Linked DNA regions of Homo sapiens: region 1 is linked to region 2. Evidence: fine-mapped expression QTL. Tissue or cell type: blood mononuclear cells. Region 2 holds a variant in brackets; the other region holds the start of a gene. All regions are shown on one strand. Distances are from middle to middle.

Region 1 (3,000 bases), 51 kb after region 2:
GCTGGGGGTCTCGACCTCTGGTTTGAGGGAGGAGAGGTTGGGGGCCTGGACTCCTGAGTCTGAGGGAGGAGGGGCTGGGGTCTGGACTCCTGGGTCTGAGGGAGGAGGGCCTGGGGGCCTGGGGGCCTGGGTCTGAGGGAGGAGGGGCTGGGGGTCTCGACCTCTGGTTTGAGGGAGGAGAGGTTGGGGGCCTGGACTCCTGAGTCTGAGGGAGGAGGGGCTGGGGTCTGGACTCCTGGGTCTGAGGGAGGAGGGGCTGGGGGTCTGGATTCCTGGGTCTGAGGGAGGAGGGGCTGGGGGTCTGGACTCCTGGGTCTGAGGGAGGAGGGGCTGGGGGTCTCGACCTCTGGTTTGAGGGAGGAGAGGTTGGGGGCCTGGACTCCTGAGTCTGAGGGAGGAGGGGCTGGGGTCTGGACTCCTGGGTCTGAGGGAGGAGGGGCTGGGGGTCTGGACTCCTGGGCCTGAAGGAGGAGGGACTGGGGGTCTGGACCCCTGAGTCTGAGGGAAGAGGGGCTGGGGGTCTGGACTCCTGAGTCTGAGGGAGGAGGGGTTGGGGGCCTGGACTCTTGGTTTGAGGGAGGAAGGGCTGGGGGCCTGGACTCCCGGGTCTGAGGGAGGAGGGGCTGGGGTCTGGACTCCTGGGTCTGAGGGAGGAGGGGCTGGGGGCCTGGACTCCTGAGTCTGAGGGAGGAGGGGCTGGGGTCTGGACTCCTGGGTCTGAGGGAGGAGGGGCTGGGGGTCTGGACTCCTGGGCCTGAAGGAGGAGGGACTGGGGGTCTGGACCCCTGAGTCTGAGGGAAGAGGGGCTGGGGGTCTGGACTCCTGAGTCTGAGGGAGGAGGGGTTGGGGGCCTGGACTCTTGGTTTGAGGGAGGAAGGGCTGGGGGCCTGGACTCCCGGGTCTGAGGGAGGAGGGGCTGGGGTCTGGACTCCTGGGTCTGAGGGAGGAGGGGCTGGGGGCCTGGACTCCTGGGTCTGAGGGAGGAGGGGCTGGGGTCTGGACTCTTGGTTTGAGGGAGGAGGGGCTGCTTCCTGTCCGTGAGCACAGCTGTGTGTTGCCTGAAGCCAGTGTCCCCCGCAGCAGACACGACAGTGTCTAAGGGCCCGGGTGAAGCTGGTGTCCCCCACAACAGACACGACAATGTCTAAGGGCCCGGGTGAAGCTGGTGTCCCCCGCAGCAGACACGACAGTATCTAAGAGCCCAGGTGTAAGACTCTCCTACAGTCTCTGCCAAGCCTGAAGCCCTCTTCCTTCTCCAGGGGATCTTCAGCACCTACTTCCTCAAGATCGAGGTGCAGGCACCCAGCTCCTTCTCCCTCAGACCTGGGAGTCCCTGCCTTGGGAGCCCGCTCTGGGCGGGGAGCACTTACCAGCAGCACCAGGTTCCCCCAGACCCCGAGGCCCCCGCCAGCCCCAGCCATGCCTCCAGACACTGCCGGGGACCCAGGAGTCCCAGGCCTAGTCCTTCCACCTGCTGGACTTTACACTCAAGAATTTCCCCTTTACCAGATCATTGGTGAAGCCAGAGGCCAGGGCGGGAAGGGGAGGAGGAGGAAGTGGAACCCAGCTCCCAACCCTGCCCCGCTGGCCCTCACCTTCCTCCCTCACCGCTGCCTCTAGCTCTGACACTGGAGATGCCTCCCATCCTTTCTCCAGCCCCCAGCCCACTCCACTTTGTCCCCCGAAATCTCCCTCTGCACCCCAGGTACCGGGTGCCGCGCCCCACTGCTGCACGGATGCGGGACGTGGGGCAGAGGATGAGAGCAGGGGGTGCTGAGAGAAAGGCCAGCTGACTCCCTCGCCTCCCTGGTGGGTGATCACACATCAAGAGCAGCCTGGGGCTTAGACCTCATGCCCCTCGTCCCTGGAGCACGCTCTTCCATTCAGCCTCTGACGCCTTTCCCCTCTCCGTCTCCCACAAGCCCCTGCAGCTCTCACAAAATGAGCCCAGCGGGCTCCTGCCTCTTGGCCTTTGCCTAGACTGTCTCCCCCACCAGATGCACCTGCCTACTTTCCCCCTAACAGTCTCCTACCCACTGCTCCATTAGGATTCAGCTTGGAAATGACCCATGCCGGGCCTGGGGCCTTTCTAGCCTGGTCAGGACCCTGTGCACTGTCTTCCACACCCCAGACTCTCTAATTTGCATATCCATCTGTGACCCTGAGCAAATGACTTAAATCCACAGTGACTCAGATTCCTCATCTCTAAAGAATGGGCACCCTTGTAAATATGCTAAGAGAAATAGATGAGTTACTACGTGGAAAGTCTTGGAACAATGCCTGGCCCATTTTAAACAGTTGATAAATATTAGTCATGTTTATTTTTAGTTCATCCCTAGGCCACCTGTGCTCAGAAGGGGCCTGACACCCAGGGCTTTTCAAGGTGTTTTTGTTGACTTACTATGTGCACACGTGGACTGCCTTCATCTCACATATAGTGCGGAAATGAAGAATAGAAACCCCAGCCGGGCATATTGGTGTGTGCCCAGCTACTCAGGAGGCTGAAGTGGGAGGATCACTTGAGCCCAGGAGTTTGAGACCAGCCCGGGCAATATACAAAACCCCATCTTTACAAAGAAAAACAAAAAGAGAGAAAAAATTACCCAGGCATGGTAGTGCACGCCTGTAGTCCCAGCTACCGGGAGGCTGAGGTGGGAGGATCACCTGAGACTGGGAAGTCAAGGCTGCAGTAAGCTGCGATTGTGCCACTGCACTCCAGCCTGGGTGACAGAGTGAGCCCCTGTCTCAGAAAGCAAAACAATGGCCAGGCGCGGTGGCTCACACCTGTAATCCCAGCAATTTGGGAGGCCGAGGTGGGCAGATCACCTGAGATCAGGAGTTCGAGACCAGCCTGGCTAAGATGGTGAAACCCCATCTCTACTAAAATGCAAAAATTAGCTGGCTGTGGTGGCAGGCACCTGTACTCCCAGCTACTCAGGAGGCTGAGGCAGGAGAATGGTGTGAACCTGGGAGGCGGAGCTTGCAGTGAGTCAAGATAGC
Region 2 (2,500 bases):
AACCAAGGAGGGGGGTTAGTGGTGGGCTGTGTCCTGTCTCCTAAGGGACCCCTGGAGTCCCCTCTGAACAAGAGGTCGGGGGACCGCGCTTCCCCTTCCTTGGGTTCCAGGAGTCTGACTCGCAAACCCACTTCCTCTCTTCACCCAAGAGTCCCTACGCCTACCTCGCAGGCCAAGGGTCCAGCCTCTCAGCTGCGACCCCTCTTGGGAACCCGGGAGGTCGCCCCCAACTCCCACTGCCTTGGGGCATCACTCACCCATCCGCCATGCTGAGACTCAGGCCGGGAATGGCAGGAGGCAGGGCGAGGACAGGGGCGTTTGGAGGGTCAGTGAGGGGGCCGCCCGGGTGACCTTCAGGGTCCCAGGGACCGTCAGTCTCCTCCGGGCTGCTTGAGACTCCCCGAGGACACTGAGATAAAGGGCGAGGACACAGACTAAATATACTGTCACCTCCTCCTCCCCCTGCCCACTATGCCAGATAACGGGGGCGCGTGAGGGGCGGGGTGGGCCCTGCTCCAGCTGGATCACCAGCCACCTCCGGGCACAGGAATCCGGACCCTCCTCCCTCTGATCCTGGAGTCCTAGACCCCTCCTCCCTCAGACCCAGAGAATGCCCGACCTCCCAACCTCCTCCTCCCTCAGTCCCAGGACCCTGGGAGACCCTGGCCACTCCCTCACACAAGGAGTCCAGGCCCCCAGCCCCCTTTTCCCTCAGACTCAAGTGTCTGGGCCCCCAGCTCCTCTTCCCTCAGACCCAAGAGTCCAGGCCCCCAGCCCCTCCTCCCTCAGACCCAAGAGTCCAGGCCCCCAGCTCCTCTTCCCTCAGACCCAAGAGTCCAGGCCCCAGCCCCTCCTCCCTCAGACCCAAGAGTCCAGGCCCCAGCCCCTCCTCCCTCAGACCCAGGAGTCCAGGCCCCCAGCCCCTCCTCCCTCAGACCCAGGGGTCCAGGCCCCCAGCCCCTCCCTCAGACAAGGGAGTCCAGGCAGGCCCCCAGCACACTTCCTCTCTCAGACTCAAGAGTCTGCACCCTCAGCTCCTCCTCCCTCAGACCAGGAGTCCAGGACCCCAATCCCTCTCCCCTCAGACCGAGGAGTCCAGGACCCCAATCCCTCTCCCCTCAGACCCAGGAGTCCAGGCCACTCAATAAATGTTGTTGATTAATTTGAGGATGCAGCTGTGCT[C/G]GGGGCTAGCTCTCAGTCAATAGCACTGGGAAATCCATCCCTCGTCCACTTGGAAACCCAGGAATCTGGTTTCTGGCTTCCTCTGTCCAGCACTCCTGGGCCTTTCTCTCCCAGCCCTGGAGACGGACATAGGACAGGAAAGACGCTTGGACACACAGAAGGGTGGACACAACTTGCTTTACTTGAACCATCTGGGTGCTGACCAGGCCCTGGTGAGGAGACACCCCAGCCCCTAGTCAGCCACAGGGTGCCTGGGAACAAGGGGGCCAAAGTCAAGGGCCTGAGACTCAGTGTCAGATCCTAGGCTGGGCTTAGAGCCTCAGAAGTGGAATTTGGAATTCTGAGAGAACAATCTAGAATTCTAGGAATAGACCATAGAATCTCAGAAATGGAATTTGAAAGTCTACCAACACTCCCGGGGTGGGGGTGGCGGGTACTGAGTGGGAATGATTAGAATAAAATTGAGGACTCTAGCAGCGGACTTAGAATGGTATCAGCGGGTTCTCATCCTACAACCTGACTTTGGAAGTTGGAGATAAGGGGTGTCTAGGGGTTGGGTCAGACTCCAGTTTTGGAGTCTGACTCACAGTTGGGCGGAGCCAAGGCCCCCTGAGGCTGAGCCAGAACCTCTGAGAGTGAACCTGGAGACTCAGAGGGCAGCTGGCAGGGCTCACAGTGTGGGGTCCCACCCTGCAGAGGCTGGGTCAGGCCCTCAAGGGCTGGGTTGCTGGCTTCAAGAGGCTGGGCCAGGATGTCAAGGGGCGGAGTTCCGGGTTCCACAGCTGGGACAGTGTTGCCCAGAGCTGATTCCTGGGACTTGCAGAAACGTGCGAAGGTCTCTGAAGGCCTGGCCCCGGTCTGTGGAGCAAATCCAGCTGCCTGAGCTAGCTCCCTGACCCGGGTGTTGAATCCCTGCAGCTGCTCCTGCCGCACGTCCACCAGGTACCTGCAGATGGGAAGCGCCCTGTCAGGGACCCAGATTTTGATCCCCAGCCAGGATGTTCCCCACCCTCCACCCCACTGACTCACCGGGCTAATTCCACAATCAAGTTCCCTCCGGGTGCCACACAGGCCCCAAGCTCAGGGATGAGAAGATGGACCATACTGCAGAGAGGACGGAGGACAGGCTGAGATTCAGCTCCAAATCCGGAGGGAGGATGGGGCTCTGGGATCCCAGACAATGAGGGAGGAGGGGTGGCAAAACTGGAGTCTGGGTCCTGGGGAAAGAAGGGAGCAGGAGGTCTGGACTCCTGGGTCTGAGGGAGGAGGGGCTGGGGGCCTGGACCCCTGGGTCTAAGCAAGGAGGGGCTGGGGGCCT

The links. PIP is the estimated chance that this variant, and not a neighbour inherited with it, causes the effect.
Region 1: it holds the start of PTPRH, and the variant in region 2 is the best candidate, but not a certain one, in a credible set for the expression of PTPRH in blood mononuclear cells (TOPMed, PIP 0.72).

What each region holds. Positions count from the first base shown.
Region 1 is chr19:55,208,013-55,211,012 of GRCh38, forward strand. PTPRH (protein tyrosine phosphatase receptor type H) reads right to left here and starts at 1,489. Exons shown (of 20, transcript NM_002842.5): 1 at 1,371-1,489. The coding sequence starts at 1,421.
Region 2 is chr19:55,157,322-55,159,821 of GRCh38, forward strand. TNNI3 (troponin I3, cardiac type) reads right to left here and starts at 411. Exons shown (of 8, transcript NM_000363.5): 1 at 258-411. The coding sequence starts at 268. It overlaps DNAAF3 (dynein axonemal assembly factor 3), which reads right to left. Exons shown (of 12, transcript NM_001256715.2): 11 at 2,212-2,286; 12 at 1,344-2,128. The coding sequence ends at 1,741. DNAAF3-AS1 (DNAAF3 antisense RNA 1) reads left to right here and starts at 1,988. Exons shown (of 4, transcript XR_007067345.1): 1 at 1,988-2,124. RefSeq lists an enhancer at 1-189. The variant C/G (reference allele first, on the strand shown) is at 1,183.